2 linked regions of the Homo sapiens genome follow. The protein of the gene in region 2 purifies or fractionates together with the protein of the main gene of each other region. This does not show direct contact. Each region holds a gene or a part of one and is shown on either strand. Other genes may lie near its edges. The genes, in order: TBC1D22B and ARFGEF1.

Region 1 (3,826 bases), on a different chromosome or scaffold from region 2:
GTATAGATGGTTTTGTGCAACCATCACCACTAATTTCAGAACATTTTCATCATCCTGAAAAGAAACTACATACCTGTTTACAGTCACTCCCCATCCACCCCACTCCAGACCCTGGTAACTACTAACCTACTTTCTGTTTCTGTGGATTTACCACTTTTGGACATTTTATATATATGGAGTAATATGATCTGAGGCCTTTTGTGAGTGGCTTCTTTTATTAAGCACAGTGATTTCAGGCTTGTCCACGCTGTAGTATGTATCAGTACTTCATTCCATTTTATGGCTGAATAATATTCCATAGTATACATACACCACATTTTGTTCATTCATCAGTTGATGGATATTTGAATTGTTTTCACTTTTGGGCTATTGTACGTAATGCTTTTATGAACATTTATGCAGAGGTTTTTGTTTGGATATATATTTTCTATTCTTCTGCTGATAAATAGGAGTGGAATTGCTGGGTCATGTAGTAACTTGGTGGAACTAAGCATCTTTTAAGTTCTCTCAGTTATTCACATGAGCCCCATTTACTTAGCACATCAAATGGTCATTGTATTAATGCCTAGAAGATAAGAGGCAATCTCTACCATTGCAGGCTTTGGCAGGTGTGGTGGCCTGTAATCCCAGAATTTTGGAAGGCTGAGGCAGGTGGATCGCTTGAGGCCAGGAGTCCGAGACCAGCCTGGCCAACGTGGTGAAACCCCCCATCTCTACTAAAAATACAAATTAGCTGGGCTTGGTGGTGTGTGCCTGTAGTCCCAGCTACTCAGGAGGCTGATGCCCAAGAATCTCTTGAACCTGGGAGACGGAGGTTGCAGTGAACTGAGATTGCGTCACTCCACTCCAGCCTGGGCAACAGAGCAAGAGATTGTCTCCAAAAAAAAAAAAAAAAAAAAATGCAGGCTCTGAAATCTGACTGCCTAGGTTAAAATCCCAGCTCTGCTTTCTAGCTATGTGATCTTATGGGATTTAATTAACCTCTCAATGCATCAGTCTCCCCATCTCTAAAATAGGGACAGAGTATCTGCTCCATGGGGCTGTTATGAGGATTAAATGAGATAATACATAATAATTGGTTAGGAGGTACACAATAATATTAGCTATTATAAGAAGGATAGTTACGATGATAGTAGCTATCATTTTTGTTTTCTCTCCTTGCTTCAGTTTTTGAAACTGAAATTGAAAAGCTTTGATCTGGTTGGGTGTGGTGGCTCACACCTGTAATCCCAGCACTTTGGGAGGCTGAGACAGGTGGATCATTTGAGGTCAGGAGTTCGAGACCAGCCTGGCCAACATGGTGAATCTCCGTCTCTACTAAAAACACACAAAAAAATTATCTGGGCTTGGTGGCACAAACCTATGGGGGAAAAATAAAAAAGCTTTGGTCAGTGTGTGTGTGTGTGTGTGTGTGTGTGTGTGTGTGTGTGTGTGTGTGTGTGTCTAGAGCTCGGGCACAGGAGAAAAAAAAAATCACCTTTTTTTTTTTTTTTTTGAGATGGGGTCTCCCTCTGTTGCCCAGGCTGGAGTGCAGTGGCACGATCTCAGCTCACTGCAGCCTCTACCTCCCAGGATTAAACGAGTCTCCTGCCTCAGCCTCCTGAGTAGCTGGGATTACAGGCACATGCCACCATGCCCAGCTAATTTTTGTATTTTTAGTAGAGAAGGGGGTTTCGCCATGTTGGCCAGGCTGGTCTTGAACTCTTGACCTCAAGTGATCTCTTGACCTCAAGCCCACCTCAGCCTCCCAAAGTTCTGAGATTATAGGTGTGAGCCACCGTGCCCAGCCCTGGCTAATTTTTGTATTTTTTGTAGAGACAGGTCTTGCCATGTTGCCCAGGCTGGTCATGAACTCCTGGGCTCAAGCAGTCTGCCCACTTCATCCTCCAAAAGTGTTGGGATTACAGGCATGAGCCTCTGCGTCTGGCCAAAATCGAAATTACCTGAGTCTTCCAGGCCCTTCGTTGTTAGAAAGAGAGGCCAAGTTAAGAACTTGAAGCCGATCCTAAAATAATAATGAATCTGATAGGAGACTTAGTGTAAAAGTCACAGCCTGTCTGGGCAGGTACATTACAACTTGTTCTTGGCTTGGAGATGTTTTACTGGTAGAGTGAGTGACTAGAAGATACTAAATTATCATCGAAACAGCATAGATCACCTGTTCTGGAAGACTAATGTGGAGTGAGTGTGTGAACCTACATCAGTTGCCAACACGTTTGGCATTTAAATTTGATGGGTCTTTTTCCCATATTTGCACTAGCTCTTTTATCAGTGCTAAACAAACACCTGTTGATTTTTCCTACCAAGATGTTTGCACTGTTTCAACTAGGCAAAACAGCTATGTCAATACATTCTATGGTGTTGGTTTTATTAAAGAGAGTGACGGAGATTAATCAGAACTTTTGTTCCATTTTGTCTGCGTGGCAGCATATTCCATGGCATTCTTTTCTCTGCATATGTGGTGTGATTTCTTCGAGATGCAGTGTGTTAACTAACCTCTGGTTTTTAGGTCTAGCTTAAGTGGAGGCCTAGGTTTTGTAGAGATCTAATCTTCACTTACTAAATATTGTTAAGTGCCTGCTGGTATGTGTCATGCTCTGCCAGGTGGCAAGGGGGCTACAGAAAAAGATATGGCACCACTATGGCTTTCTAGGAGCTAAAAAATCTGCTTGGCATCATGGCTTCCCCTGGAGAAGATGCTGTGTATGATTGACTTTCTGGTTTTTCCACTAAACATATGTTATATTTGTAATCAGACAAACTTAAAAGTGGAATTGGGTGAAAACACATTGTTGAATGCAAAGAGCAAGATGTAGAAAGATATGTGCAATGTGCAGTCTTTTATGTGAAGTTTAAAAACATAAAAAATACTGTGTGTTGTTTATGGATCTGTGAATATATGTAGAGGAATAAAAACAGATGGGAGGAGTTCCCTCCAATTTCAGAATAATTGTTATCTCTTGGGAAGTGAAGAAACAGGACTAGGGACTGCAATTAGGGCATCAGTAGTCTAACACTTTGTTTTTGTTTTGTTTTGTTTTGTTTTTTTGACATGGAGTCTTACTCTGTTGCCAGGCTGGAGTGCAGTGGCCCGATCTCCGCTCACTGCAACTTCCGCCTCCCGGGTTCAAGCGATTCTCCTGCCTTGGCCTCCCGAGTAGCTGGGACTACAGATGCGTGCCACCACACCCAGCTAATTTTCTTGTATTTTCAGTAGAGATGGGGTTTCACCATTTTGGCCAGGATAGTCTTGATCTCCTGACCTCATGACCCACCCACCTTGGCCTCCCAAAGTGCTGGGATTACAGGCGTGAGCCACTATGACCGGCCTAACACTTTTTTTCTTAAATGAAATGTGACAAATGTTAACATTTGTAAATCAGAGTGATGGGTTTGTGGATGTTTATTATATCATTTTCTGTACTTTTCTTTGTGTTTGAAAATGTCAATTAAATGCTTTTTCACTTGTGTTAGAGCAAATGTTTTGTATTTTTTTTTTTTAACTTGTGTTGGAGAGATCAGCCAGTTAGCCATGGAATTAAGTAAAATTTAAAGTAACATGATTTAGAGTCAAAATAAGTCATATTTACAGTGTGATGTTATTTATATAAAGTTTAAAAAACATGCAAAATCATACATTATTTAGGGATACATACATAGAAAATAAAAATATAAAAATGAGTGTGAAAAATGCCAGATCCAATAGAGTGGCTTGCTAGGAAGGGAGGGAGGGGTATGCCAGGGTGTTTTGTTTTGTTTGGTTTTGTTTTGTTTTTGACACGGGGTTTCACTCTTGTTGCCCTGGCTGGAGTGCAATGGCACGATC
Region 2 (3,826 bases):
AGTGTTTGCCTTTGCATTCACTCACCACTCACTCACTGAGTCACCCAGAACAATTTCCAGTCCGGCGAGTTCCAGTCATGGTAAGTGCCCTATATGGGTTTTTGTTGTTGCTTTTTTTTTTCTTTCTTTTTTTTTTGAGATGGAGTCTTGCTCTGTCGCCCAGGCTGGAGTGCAGTGGCATGATCTCTGCTCACTGCAAGCTCCACCTCCCAGGTTCAAGCCATTTTCCTGCCTCAGCCTCCCAAGTAGCTGGGACTACAGGTGCCCACCACCACGCCCGGCTAATTTTTGGTATTTTTAGTAGAGACGGGGTTTCACTGTGTTAGCCAGGATGGTCTCGATCTCCTTTCCTCGTGATCCGCCCACCTTGGCCTCCCAAAGTGCTGGGATTACAGGCGTGAGCCACCATGCATGCCCAGCCTACAGGTTTTATCTTTTATGCCATGTTTTTACTGTACCTTTTCCATGCATATATATATATATACACATATATATATATATATATATATACACACACATATATATATATGTATATGTATGTATGTATGTATGTATGTATGTATGTATGTATGTATTTTTTTTTTTTTTGAGACAGAGTCTTATACTGTCACCCTGGCTGGAGTGCAGTGGTGCCATCTTGGCTCACTGCAACCTCCGCCTCCTGGGTTCAAACAATTCTCATGCCTCACCTTCCCAAGTAGCTGGGATTACAGGTGTGCACCACCACACCCGGCTAATTTTTGTATTTGTATTTTTTAATTTTTATTTTTATTTTGAGACAGAGTCTCACTCTGTTGCCTGGGCTGGAGTAGAGTGGCACTCTCAGCTCACTGCAACCTCTACCTCCCAGGTTCAAGCGATTCTCCTGCCTCAGCCTCCTAAGTAGCTGCGATTACAGGTGCGCACCACCACGCCTCGCTAATTTTTGTATTTTTAGTAGAGAAGGGGTTTCACCACGTTGTCCAGGATGGTCTTGAACTCCTGACCTCAGATGATCCGCCCACCTGGGCCTCCCAAAGTGCTGGGATTATAGGTATGGCCACCATGCCTGGCCAAATTTTTGTATTTTTAGTAGAGATGGGGTTTCACCAGGTTGGCCAGGCTGGTCTCAAACTCCTGACATCAGGTGATCTGCCCACCTTGGCCTCCCAAAATGCTGAGATTACAGGCGTGAGCCACTGCACCCAGCCTGTTTAGATATGTTTAGATACACAAACACCACCGTATTAACAGCTGCCTACAGTACAGTAACATGCTGTGCAGGTTGTACCCAAGGAGCAATAGGCTATGCCATCTAGATTTGTGTAAGTACATGCTATGATGTTCACACAATGCTGAAATTGCCTACTAATGCATTGCAGAGAACATACTCCTGTCATTAAATGATGCCTGACTATATTTGGGACTTTAATTTTCGGTATTTATCCCCAAATCTAGAGAATTTTGGAAGAATTAAGTAAGAATGCACACAAGAAATTCTTTCTACACAGTGTTATACCAATTATAGTGCTGCACTATTTGTTGTTGTTAAAGACAGAGAGTCTCAATTTGTTGCCTAGGCTGGAGTACAGTGGTGTGATCAGGGCTCACCATAGCCCCAACCTCCTGTGCTTAGGCAATCCCGCCTCAGCCTCATGAGCAGCAGGAACTAGAGGCATGACCACCATGCCTAGTTAACTTTTTGTTCAAAGAGATGGGGTCTCACTATGTTGCCTAGGTTGGTTTCAAACAATCCTCCCACCTTGACATCCCAAAGTGCTGGGATTACAGATGTGAGCCATGGCATCCGGCCCACATTTTAAGATGGAAGCTAAATAGCAACCCATACATATCCTGGGATGAGGTAGGAAAATCAAAGGCCATCACTGAACAAAGTTTACTGATCTTTTCTCTCTCCTTTACTAACTAGAACACACACAACCTCTTTAACAACTGGAATCTACCCATAATCTGAACATGGAATATGGTGAGAAATAAGGTATCACAGTGCCAAGCAACAGAAGGCTAAGAAAGCAGGTGGATCCTCCATCAAACAGACTTCTACAAATAAATAAAGGGTGAGGGGAGAGGGTGCTGAGTTTTCATGACCTGCTAGTCATGATATGTCAGCCGCTCCACTGAGGCAGGTGGACAGCTGAAATGGGGCTATCTTGAATTTTAACAAGTTCCTAACAGGTCCACTGATAAACAATCCACCATGTCTAAATATAAAATAAAATGTTTTTCTATAGTGCTCTCATAATTAAAATCCCTAAGGGTTAAGTCCTATTTTGATTATCTATTTCATACGAATTTCTGTTGTAACAAATAATACTATAAAAATGAAAAATTTCTTGGGATATAAGTCAAATTTAACCTTGGTGGGGGATGGGGGTGGTTCTGGCATAAGGTGAGAAAAGAGAGATTCATTCTGTGCTACCTTTAGAAATTCAAAAAATTCGATAAAGTTACACATCCAAATAACAGAAGATTCTTCCAAATAAGATGGAAAGATTCCTAAAAGATTTTGTTTACCATAAAATTGAACTCACGGTGGGTTTAGAGGTTGACAGATATTAGGACACACAAGCTGGCCATTTCAATGTGGCAAAGTACAGGGTAAAAAAACTACTATGGGAATCATGTGAGCCGTGACCTAAGAACAGTGTGTTAGCATTTGGCCAGTTACATAATACCCATAATAGTTCCTTTACAGATTGACTATATGTTCATAATGATCTTTTATTGGCAATATACTTTTGAAAGAGTTCTATTTGAATAGCTCTATATTATTCCAAACTATGTTACTGACCAGGTTACAAAAAGAAATGGTTCTTCACCTAAAACCCAGCAAGGATGTGCAGTTAAAAATTCTTCTATCATTCATCAGGAAATAAAATAAATTTTGCCACTAACTTCAACTTATTATTGGAAACAAATATATGAAAAGACGGAATGTTTAAAGGATTAAATTAACTTAGAAGCTAAAATCAAATGGAGGCTATAATCAAATATTTTAAAAATAATGTAGTATTTCCATTTTTATTTTGCTCTAGTTAATATTTTTAAATCATATTAACATATTTTAAAATATACCTAATAATTAATATATTTGACAAAACACTTGATTTTATGGTCTTTAACTGTGAGATTGTGTTTATAAAGAAGAGTTAATTTGATTAAAGTCAAAATAAATCCAAAATTTTAATTACAAATATAGATTGTTACCTGGTTCTTACATCTAATTTGCATCTATTGATGATACAGGATAACTCAAAGAGAATTGGGAACCATCCTCTCACCCACACCCTGTCTTCAGGTGCTACGTTCATATCATCGCTTGTGTATTCCTTGAAAGCCTTCAAGAAAAAAGGTAGGGTTATTAAAGGCAAAACATAACACCCATACATTCAGTATACTAACTTCTCAAAAAATAATTTAAATGCTTCACAAATAACCAGTGAGCAATTTAATAAAAAATAATTTATAAAAAATGGACACTATAACTGCCTACAATTTTAGTATATGTGCCACTGAAATAGGCAAAACATAACTGCCTATAAAGAGCTCTGGACTAGAATCCAAAAGTTAGCTTCACTTTCAACTGTCACCAGCTTTCTGCATTATTAGCCAGGTTAATTCAGGTTTCCATTTTTATCACTTAAATGGTTATGATACCAGACAGCCACATTAACCACACTGGTGAAGTATGAAGGTGAAATGAGTTGACGTATCTAAAAAGTACCAAGCACCTGATCGGTCCATGGTAGTACGGAATAAAATCTTATTACCAAATCTACGATACATCACTTTCTCTTATGACAGTTACAAAGATAGATTCAAATAT

The links.
Region 1: the proteins of ARFGEF1 (region 2) and TBC1D22B purify together in Homo sapiens (pull-down; one large-scale study listed by IntAct). This does not show direct contact.

The regions. Positions count from the first base shown.
Region 1 is NC_000006.12:37,260,554-37,264,379, forward strand, and holds part of TBC1D22B (TBC1 domain family member 22B), read left to right. Parts: intron 1-3,826. UniProt on the Homo sapiens protein: May act as a GTPase-activating protein for Rab family protein(s).
Region 2 is NC_000008.11:67,221,696-67,225,521, forward strand, and holds part of ARFGEF1 (brefeldin A-inhibited guanine nucleotide-exchange protein 1), read right to left. Parts: intron 3,339-3,826; coding exon 3,208-3,338; exon of another isoform or gene 2,994-3,207; intron 1-2,993. UniProt on the Homo sapiens protein: Promotes guanine-nucleotide exchange on ARF1 and ARF3. Promotes the activation of ARF1/ARF3 through replacement of GDP with GTP. Involved in vesicular trafficking.